Linked DNA regions of Homo sapiens: region 1 is linked to region 2. Evidence: fine-mapped expression QTL. A gene starts in region 2. The other region holds a variant in brackets. All regions are shown on one strand. Distances are from middle to middle.

Region 1 (5,378 bases), 48 kb before region 2:
TGCAAAGTATTCTCCCTACACCCTGAGTATGGATGCATCAGTTGTTTAAAATTCTGTGGAAAGTTTCCTTAGAAAAACATAAAATTTAAAGTGATATACTGATGGGAAATTGAATATATTAATTGTGGAAGAATATCAGCTAACTAATTAACTAAGTAGACATTTAAATCTGGACTCTGTTGAAGAATCAAGGTTAAACTCTGCATTATGTGCACTAATGTCAGCCATCTAATATCAAAGTCAGATAAGTAAACTATCTTTCACTTTATACATAGTGCATTTAGTAAATAAATTCTCTTACCAGCAACATAAAGCCCTTGTTGGAGCAAAATTAAAGTATTAAGAATTGAATTAACTTACAACAAATATCTGAAGGGTAAGTGGAACATTTTTCAAAGTATAAAGATGTTATCACATATATTCACCATGAATCCTCTTAAAGGTTTTATAACACCATTAAATTATATCAAATATCCAACAGATATTGTCATTTTCTTCTGTGATTTATAAAGGAAACATTCCTTTTGTACAAATCAGAAGTATCTTAAAAATCAACCTTAACACCAAAATATACATGTAATTTTAACTTGGTTTAGGAAAACATGAAAGAACTGTCACATTTTGGTGTGAACAAGGTTCTGAAAACCCCCTATCAGAGGTCTCATTCACTTTTTTCCACATATCACTTGAAGGTTTTGAAACTGGTAAAAACAGAATTCAGCTCGATGTACATCAAAACTTTAACAGTTCTGAAAAAGACGTATTTCGTAAGGGCCAAAATGTACAGCACAGCAATATTACAATGTTACAGTATAAATATGTCAAGCCAATTTGTAATAAAATAAGACAGTTGTCTTCAAAAGAGCTGTTTGACTATAGAGCAACCAAATAGATCTAGAACATCTTTGGAAAAACCACAAAGTGCCTTTACAGAAAGTTAAGTTTAGACTACACTTAATTAAAAGATAATACTCTAAACTCAAAATTATTTTCTCTATATGAGGAATTTTGACACTTGTTTTCACACCTGCCAATATTCAATATTTTTAACTCACACTTCTTTTCATACATCTGCCAATATTTAATATTTTATTCTATGCCCCTGCACTGAATTGATGTAAGTGTGAAGTTCCACTATTATTATTACCACACATGCTAATACCTAATAACTGGTCTGTCATTATGTAGTGGTTAAATAAGCAAATGCTGAACTCAGCACAGCTCTAGCAAAATGCAAAGGAAATAAGAAAAGCCTCACCTCAGAATGATTACACCATAAACAGAAATAAACATTTTCAAACACAAAGTTTCACAAAATAATATATCATCACTTTAAAAGAAATTCAGAACTCTATTTTGCTGTTGATCAAACTTGTGCATACACTCAAGTTACTAAACACAATTTGATAGTTAGATACTTGTAAAAATGCATTCTAAACTTAATAATCAATTAATTCATAATTAACAAGAGCAAACATTCCTAGTCCTAACATTTAAAAAAACCCAGTCCAGTGCTGCCACATCTCAAGTTCTGAAAAGCTAAAGGCAGGAACAATTCTGGTTATACAATTCCTGCATTTCTCCACCTTAAAAAATACTTGAAGAAACTTTAGGAAACTTTATATTAAGGCTTGCTGTATTTCTGTATCTTAAATTGAGAAAAATCAAAACCTACGATGTAACCTCGAATTATTTAAATAGCTTTTGGCATTTTTCTTGAAAAGCAAATTTGAATCTTTCACTATAAAACATTTCTATACCACAATTACTAATTCACATTAATGTGTAAGTGCCCTCATTTCCTATTCCCTGGCAGGCGCTATGTCTTCTTTCTACGTTTTGTGCAGCTTTCAGAACAGTCAGTGCTCAGAAAAAATGAAAACGTAATGGAGCAAAATCAAAGTCCCCAAAAAAAGTGATTTATCCTAGATTACAAAATCCAGTAGTGGAAGAACCAACATTTACACACCCAAATACACACACACCCACACATACACAGGACACAGCGAGAGATGAGAGAGAGTGGGGGGTGGGGGAGGTGAGAGACAGTGGGAGGAGGGGGGAGGGGGAAGAGAGTGGGAGGAGGGGAGAGAGAGTTGCAGGGAGGGAAGAGAGAGACAAAAGCAAGACACAACCTTTGTCCTCTATTCATGTCAACTTGCAGTTTCTGGACACAAACTAGTAGGAAATGTAGAGCCCAGAAAGATCGTGTCAGAGAACTTGACGAGACAGTGTAGATATAGTTTATCTGGGTGGGGCGGGGTGGGGGGAAATCCCAATTTTTCTAAAACAAACAAACAAACAAA[C/A]AAAAAAAACACCACATTCTTGGTAGAGGTTTTTTCAAAAATCCAACAATAAAAACTACTGGGCTTCTCTAAATGCATTTCCATATTAACATTAATTTTTAAAATTTCAACATGTTTTACAATTTAAGTTTTCACTTGTAAGATAAGTTGGGAACCCAAAATTGTCAAAAAAAATTTTAATTATTGTCAATAAAAATTCTTACTGCACAATCTTTATAGGCGTTTTATTTTAAAGCACCTTTTTAAATTTTAACAGTGGGTTTCTAAAAAGAAAACAGTAAAATAAAAGAGGGAACAAACTGGCAAGGTTAAAGTACTCCCTTACACACACACACACACACACACACACACACACACACACACACACCTTTCATGCCAGAATGACTGGCAGCATTGGCAAATAATGTCAATGAAAGGATGGGGGAAACTATCACTTATAGTGTTTATAGAAACCTAAAATACTAATGTTTCTGCTAAGAAATTAAATAGTTTGGGGAAATCAAAAAGCTACCAATAGCTGATCTATGAAATATGAAAATGAAACTGATTTTTAAAAACAGGAAAGGCCAAAAATCTACTAGAAATTTTTAAAAATCAGCCTCAATTTTATTTTCTGATGTCAGACTAGTTATTAATTAGATACCATTTGTTTGCAAAGGAGCAAAATTATAACTCTATCACTGGAACCTATCCTCAGCCACTTCAGTGCAGTTTCTAGCAGCACTATTTGGATACAAAAAGAATGTGGTCAGACAATGCCCCTGAAAACCCCCTGGTTAGACCTTCCTTCAAATACATGTTCTTAGGGTCTTGACACACTACACATGTGTATAGAAGAATAAATGAAGGTAGTATTTTGACAGATTACAAAAGTATGAACTATATACACCGAGTGATAACACAAAGCGCTCAGAAAGCTATATTTACTTGCCTCCCAACTGACTTACGATGTTAATATTCACTATTCAAATTTTATCCTAAACATCTTTATTGGCTTGTTCCCCTCCCCAAACAAATACTAAAATATACTGGTTTGGGGTTTGCTCTATGCATTTTCCAAGAGCCAATCAAACAGCGACTTGCATCTCTCCTCACTGGAAGCTTTTTCCATCACTTCATAGTATTGAAGCACAGCCTGCAGGAGGTCTCCCACTTTCCATCCTTTCTCTTGTAATTGTTTTGAAAGCTAAGAAAGAAAGATGTGTCAAACATTAACCAAAAACAATTTTATAACAAAGCTTTTATTTTTATTTTCAATATTAGCTGAAACTTAAGAATCCTGCTGTTTACAATTAAATACCGTTTCCTAGTTATAACAAGGTCTTCCCCTCTAAACCGCTACCCCTTTACCCAAATTAAACATTTTCCCTTCTTCCCCTTTATAAACACATCTCCTCCAGAGAATGACACTTTGGGATCGCTGGAGACAGAGCTCCACAAACCTCACCAAGCAAATAGTCTGCATGGACATGCAGAGGCTGAGTTTCTACAGGAAATTCTTCACCTAACTAAATACAACTGCCACACCCTCAATTAGGACATAAAATAATAAAGACAACGTCAAACTCAATAAAAGGATGTGGATTTTCCTTCCACAACATATAGTGTGGCATTTTTCTGGAATACACACTCTAGCCTCAATGGAAACATGGCTTTCTAAGTTAAAGAATGTTAATGTTTCAACAACAAAACAACAAATAAATAAATAAATAAATACAGGTTTAAATAAATCCTGTTGTCACCACTCACGACATGCTTTTGTTCATTTCTTTTTCTACTAAGTTCTGTAAAAGCTCTTAAGTTTTGAAAGATCTGTAAGTTAAATTCTGAAAAACTACTTTAATTTTGTGTAACATATATATGCTTAACCTTTTTAAAAACAGCTTTATTGAGATAAAACTCACATAACATACAATTCACCCAAAGTGTCCTAGTCAATGGTTTTTAGTATGTTCTCCAAGTTGAATGCAACCAACACCACAATTCGAATATTTCTACCACCCCAAAAGGAAAGTTCTGATAAAGAAAATTATGGAACAAAAACCTTAAGACTGTAAACTGAAAATCTTGACTAATAAGGTACTTGGCACATAGTAAGCATCTTGTTTAAACTTTTATCGGCTTTTAATTATGACAGCTGCTCATACAAATGAAACTGGATTATCAGAGAAACAGATATATTAATCATTAGGTACAATTACAAATCAATTAAATACAGAGAATAATTCAATTTTTTCATAGGAACACACACAATGCTTATTAATAGCATCTACCTTTGAGAGCTTAGTGTTATGCCAGGCATTAGACCAAGCATTTTTTTTAACATTATATTTAATCCTCATAAACCCCTGTAAGGTAGATTCTATATTCATTTGCATAGTGCAGTTAGGGGCAATGAGACAGACTGGTGAACCTGCCTCTGGTTATACTGCTAGAAAGTGGCAGAGCTGATGTCTGAACCCAAACTGTTGGACACTACAGCCTAAGAATTTAACCATCACCAGGCATCTTGTTAGACCAATCACATGACAAGAACATCATATACTGTTAAATGTATCCTCACACTCTGTAAGGTAGGTACTTACTAGCATAAACTCCTTATTTGCAGAGTCATGAAAATAAAGTTCTGCAACTTCAGCCTCAGAGGCAATGAGCCACTGAAGAATAATCCTTAGCTGGGGGTCTACCGTGCATGGCTCCATGTCAATATTCGTAATTAGCAGTGTCTTTCCATCTTGCCCCAAACCTAATATTTAAATGTAAACAATATAAAGTAAAACTCATCAATTTAACTCTCAATACTCTGGTTGTCAAGTAGATACAAATATTTTCTGGTTCTTAGGATTCTAATGAATGGTGAAAAAAATATCCATCTTTTTCTAACCACACCATAACCTCAACTAAAACTTCTAAAGGGCAAAATAATGTAAAACAAAGGAATAACTTTGATCATTTATTGATTGCAAAAATATAAAACATCATTTTAACATACTGAATTCAAGTTCTATAAATGCCATAATTTGATATAAATTATGACCAGTGGGTTAGAGAGAAAATAAAACTATAAAGCTA
Region 2 (5,378 bases):
TAAAAACACTGAGTAAGCAGCTACTATGTGCTTCGCACTAACTTTTTGAGGTGGGTATGAAGAAAATGAGGCTCATTTAATTAATAGACCTGACTCCCAAACCGAAACTCTTTACAATATACCTCATTTTCAGTCAAGTAACATCCTCTCTGTTCCAGGCCTCTACCCCATTTATTTCCCAAGAAACATTCTCAGATTATTCTAAAAATGATAACTTTTCTCCTTTTACCATGTCCAGTCTCTAATCTACAAATTTCAAATGCCTTTACTCCAGAAGTTTTTTGTTGTTGTTTTTTGAGGCAGAGTCTCACTCAGTCGCCCAGGGTGGAGTGCAGTGGCACGATCTCGGCTCACTGCAATCTCCCATCTCTCAGGCTCAAGCGATTCTTGTGCCTCAGCCTCTCGACTAGATGGGATTACAGGCATGTGCCATAACACGTGGCTAATTTTTTATTTTTTAGTAAAGACAGGGTTTTTCCATGTTGGCCAGGCTGGTCTTGAACTCCTGGTCTCAAGTGATCCACCCGCCTCAGCCTCCTAAAGTCCTGGGATTACAAGTGTAAGGCACCAAGCCTGGCCCAGAAGTATTTTTTTAATAAACTTTTATATGTAAGGATGACTGGGAGAATCGAGACACTTGGATCTTTCCAGGCTGTTTTTAAACTGATAAAGCATTTTTCTTTCTCTTCCCCATATTACCAGCTCATTGACCCTTAACTCATGCCCAGGCTTAACTTAAAGCTTTTCTCGACCTGTCCTCACCCTTCAATCCTTCCAGGTAGTTGATTAATAAAATGCAGACCACAAGACAGGAAAAAAAACAAAATCAGTTACCCTATCCAAAGTTACTTCAATTACTTTTGAAAAACCAAACACCACACGCCCTACAAGTTTGAAACCCTTGCCAAAAGGTTATGAAGACCAGCCAAAAAATTTATTTTTCTACTTCTGAAAATTAGTTTGCTAAGATGGAGTAAGAAGGAATTTTTTCTAATCAACACTGGTCTCCTCTGCCCATTCACAAAGAGATATTTTCTAAGTCTTTCACATTTTTGTCACGTATAGACAGAATTCCTCTACCTATTTACAACTGGCATTTTCTCTTAAAACGGCCTTTAATATATTGTCCAAATTGGTTTGAGTTCCTTTTCCAGACAGTAAGTTCCTAAAATTAAAAAATAAAAAAATTAAAAGTACCGTATTTTTTCCAGCCTCTAAAGGCAAAAGAGGACTTCTTCAGCTTCTAGACTTATCCCTGGAGTTCAGGGGGCTAGAGAAGGCTAGAGAATTTCTCACTATGGTTCCATGTCTTAGGCAACTTCCCATATCCTCAACAACTGCAAAATATCACTGGCCTAGGAGTCCACTGCTAGGCCCTTATCAATATTGTCGATACTGCAGTTATGTGGGTACATACATTAGTCTCTAGCTCAGCTTGGGAACCCACTTCTTCCCTGATTTCCTTACATTCTTTGACCTTTCATAAATTACTGTTACAGCTACAATAGTGACATTCACTGTCCACCCCTGGGTCAGTTTTGTCAGGAGGAACAACGACAAGAAAAAATGAATAATCAGGGTACCGTTTGAAAAAGTAAATGTGTTTTTCAAAAAAAAAAAAAATCATTCAATTGCACTATTTTAACTGACACCAATCATGCCAGGCACTGGGCTGCCATCCTAAAATGATGACATTAAAAAAAATATATCTGTGCATTACTGATACCCCATTTTTTCTTAGTACTCCATATTTTGAGTATTTTCAGACATAACAAAATAACAATCGACATGACATTTCTAAAACAGTGGGAAGCAGCTAAGCAAAACGAGCATTTTGCAAGCGATTGAAAAGCTGAAAAGAGAACAGGAATTAACTCCAGTTTGTACTAAAGCTATTAGGTATGTATCTCAGCAGTCTTTCTCACCATGAAACTCCTTAACATCTAAAGCTAAACCACATCCAACTTTATATGGTTTTAGAAGACAGACAAAGCAGAGAAAAAAAATGAAAGCTGGTAATATGGGGAAGAGAAAAAATGTTAGCTTTTACTGTCATTGTCACTTTTTAATACTTCGGTTACATCTACATATTTTTTATAAAGCAGCTTAGATGCCTGGATTAACAGCAGTATACTCAATCCATTCGGGGTACTTTATGGCCAGCCTTAAGCCATTAACAGCCTAGGAGAGTATTTGACAGCAAATCCAAATATCAATACTCTGAGGAGCCCCTTGACGCCTTCCGTTTACAAGATCTGAGCAGCGCCTGCTTCCAAGGCTCCGGGGGTCTGACAGTGAAGGATGCTGTTCGGGAACAAAGTGCAACGTCCTCCCAACCGCTGCAAATGTTCCTGTGCGCACACCACGAACACACACTAAGCACGCGCACCACGCACCCGGGGGGCCGTCTCTGAAGACCACCCCGGGGATGGAAACAGCCTGTCATTAAAAGGGGCGGCAGCTCCACCGCCACACTTGGGACCCCAGGAAGACGCGTCTCGAGACCCAGCACCTCCCTCTACTCTGGGCCCGGTGCGGTGAGTTTCCTCCTTCGGCCGCGCTCCTCCCGCCCTCCTCCCTCCGCCATGCGAAGGCGCAGCTCTCGGGCGGCCCCGAAGCCAGAAGGGGGACCAGCGGCAGGCGGAGGGGCTGGAGCGCCGGAGCCGGGCCGCTCCATCCATGCCGGCCGCACACCCGCCGCCACCCCATCTAAACGCAGCCTCCGCGGCGAGCACGTCGGCGCCCGGCTCACCTGGGGGCCGCAGCCTCCGCAGCTCACAGACATGTCACCGGCCTCAACGACCCGTGAGCGAGCCGGGCAAGCAAGCTGGCCCCCTCCCGCGCTGACCCCCAGCCCTCCCCCTCCCAGCCCCGCGGCCCGCCCCCGCCCTGCCCACCCCTCGGCTTCCGCCGCCGCCGCCGCCGCCGCAGCTCCGGCCCGCAACACCGCCTACTCTCCACGCCTCCCACTCTCTCTCGCGAGAGGGCAGCGCGCCTCTCGCGAGAAAAATTCCGCGGCCGAGCCCGCGCAAAAGTGGGTGGGCGTTTAAAAAGGGAAAGAAGGAACAGGAAAAAAAGCCTTCCCACGTGCTCCAGTGCAGCCCGCGGAGCAGCCCGCGGGGCAGCCCCGCTGGTCACATGACTTAAAGGGGGCCTCTCCATTGGCCGGGACCCACTCAGCCTTGGGAGCTTTAAATTCGAGGGCGACCTACGAACCTGCGGCGGACGTCTTGCGCGCTTCCTGGTCCGTTGCCTTGGAAACGGCTTAACCCTTCCCTCTGGCAAGTCCCCAGGCCTTGGCTTGCTCCGCAGATTTGGTTTCAGGCTCTGCCTCTTTTCCCTCGACCCCTTAGTCTTAACAGCCTGGGGCCAGCTGGGCTCCTTCTTCGCCACAAGGCTAGTTTTGCTTTCTTCCGAAGCCCGGGGCCCTTCCCAAAGTGGCAGCCCCACCAGATCCGAAGGCCCAAGGAAGGCTCATCCTTTCTGATGGCTCCGCCCCTTCTCCCAGCATCTCCGGGGAGGACCACTCACAGCGCACCGGGCAACCAGCCCTATCCCAGCCAAGAAGTAGCTTCCAGGGTTCTCAGGGCCCTAGTGCTCACCCTGATGTCTTTACGTGGTATGGAAATCGGAAAGTAAAGCTTTGGTCACTGGGAAGCCTAGCCAGAGATGAAAAGCTGTTATGGTGATTATTTTCACCTAAAATCGGAAGGGCCAGTCCAGTCAAATTGCCCTGTCTCCTAAAGGGCATCTGTTCCTCAAGAGTGGAAACACCTGGCAATAAGAAAGACATTTTTGAGTGTATCCTCGTTATGAGTTAAGTTTTGCCCTGTTCAGAGGAGAGGGTCACGGAAGAAAGGGTGCATTCGTTTGTTCATTTCTTCATTCAACAAACACTACTCTAGGCTGTTGATTGAACAATGATGAAGACAAGTAGTGTAGATTCTAGGGAACTTATCTGAGGGTGAAAAGAAAAAAAATCTGTTGGTTTTAAGCTGTATGCAAAGAAGTTACAATAAGTGACGTGATGGTGATGGTGACTGAGTGGCTAGTAAAGGGGATGCCCTTTTAAGGAGGAGATATTTTAGCAGCGATTTGAATAACAGACGCAAAAATCAGAGCATAGAGCATTCCAGGAAAAGGATAACACTAATTCAAAGGCCCTAAGTAAGGATCTATTCTAGTGCATTTGAGGGAAGAAGAAATGAGAAAGTAAACTTTCTTGAGCCTGGAGATGGAAACTGTAAGAGTTAAAGAAAGAAACACAAAAAGCAGCTTAACAGAGACAGGTTTATTTTGGAGAATAAACCTGAGAGGGGCTTCTGGCCGATTTCGGTCAGGAGTGTTCTCTCTTACAGACTAAAGGTATTTAGTGGTTTAGGGAGGGAGAGCATATTGTAGACTTGGAATGTTTCTGGGTGGAGGAGAGTTTTATTGTCAGGGGTGTAATGTCTCTGGTTGGAGGGGAGGCATATTTCTGATCAGAGTGGGGTTTATCTCAGGGTTGGAAAGTTTCTGGTCAGAAGTGTTATTTGTGGTTTATGGTCATGCTGACATTAGCCATTAGGCTGATGTTTCTGGGGCTGGATTTAGGCGGTTTTTAATCAAGGGGAACTTAAAATGGCGGTGCTTGTCCAAGATGGTGATGCTCTTGCTCTGTCAGAAACTAGCATGGGCCAGATCCTGTAAGGCTTTGTTAGCCAAGAAAGGAATTGAAAGTTTATTCTAAACGCAATATAAGGTATTACAGAGTTTTTAATAGGGGAGAGACACCCAGAGTTTACTTTTTTTTAAAAAAAAAAAGTCTCGTCTTTGAAAAGAATGGGTCTTAAAGAGGCCAAAGCAGAAGTAAGGGAGATTAGGAGATTTATAGGCCAGGTGAGAGACAGTCATGAAATTTAATTTAATTTCCTATGATCTCAACATTTCTAAAATCCATTAGGTCAGAGTCCTCATGCTGTTTCTGCCTTTGTTGAAACATGTGGATTTCTCCTAATTACTAGGAAAAATAAAATGGAGGATTTTCTTTTGTTACCTGGGGGAAAACAAATGGCTGAAAAGGAAGGGCCCATCTTTAATTTTTTTCCCTCCATTATGCTACACTGACAACCACCTCTTCTGTCTATTCTTAAAGTCAATTCTGGGAACAGAAAATGAAATTCTACGCAGATACTTATTCTTTAGTGTAAGATTTGAAAAGATAGAGGTTGAAAGCTCAGAAATCAAGAGGATGTTTCACCAAAAGAAACGAATCAGGAGATGAGTTCCAACTCGAAGCTCTGTCATTAGTGATACAACCAAATCAAGGTTCCTTATCACCACTGAGTCTCAGCTTCCTCATACATAAAACAAAGCAATGTAACTAGCCTACACCTAAA

Alleles and levels. Positions count from the first base shown, and alleles are read on the strand shown. Sizes are in standard deviations (SD) of each study's normalised expression.
In carriers of allele C in region 1, the expression in neutrophils of the gene that starts at base 2,829 in region 2 tends to be lower than with A alone (large effect, 1.0 SD a copy in Naranbhai 2015).

Evidence for each region. PIP is the estimated chance that this variant, and not a neighbour inherited with it, causes the effect.
Region 1: its variant is the best candidate, but not a certain one, in a credible set for the expression of AKAP11 in neutrophils (Naranbhai 2015, PIP 0.76).

The regions. Positions count from the first base shown.
Region 1 is chr13:42,317,202-42,322,579 of GRCh38, reverse strand. It overlaps AKAP11 (A-kinase anchoring protein 11), which reads right to left. Exons shown (of 13, transcript NM_016248.4): 12 at 4,892-5,052; 13 at 1-3,492. The coding sequence ends at 3,352. Among named protein-coding and RNA genes, the nearest start is that of AKAP11, 48 kb to the right of the region's middle. The variant C/A (reference allele first, on the strand shown) is at 2,307.
Region 2 is chr13:42,269,603-42,274,980 of GRCh38, reverse strand. It overlaps AKAP11 (A-kinase anchoring protein 11), which reads right to left and starts at 2,829. Exons shown (of 13, transcript NM_016248.4): 1 at 2,753-2,829. RefSeq lists a silencer at 2,570-2,919 and an enhancer at 3,460-3,639.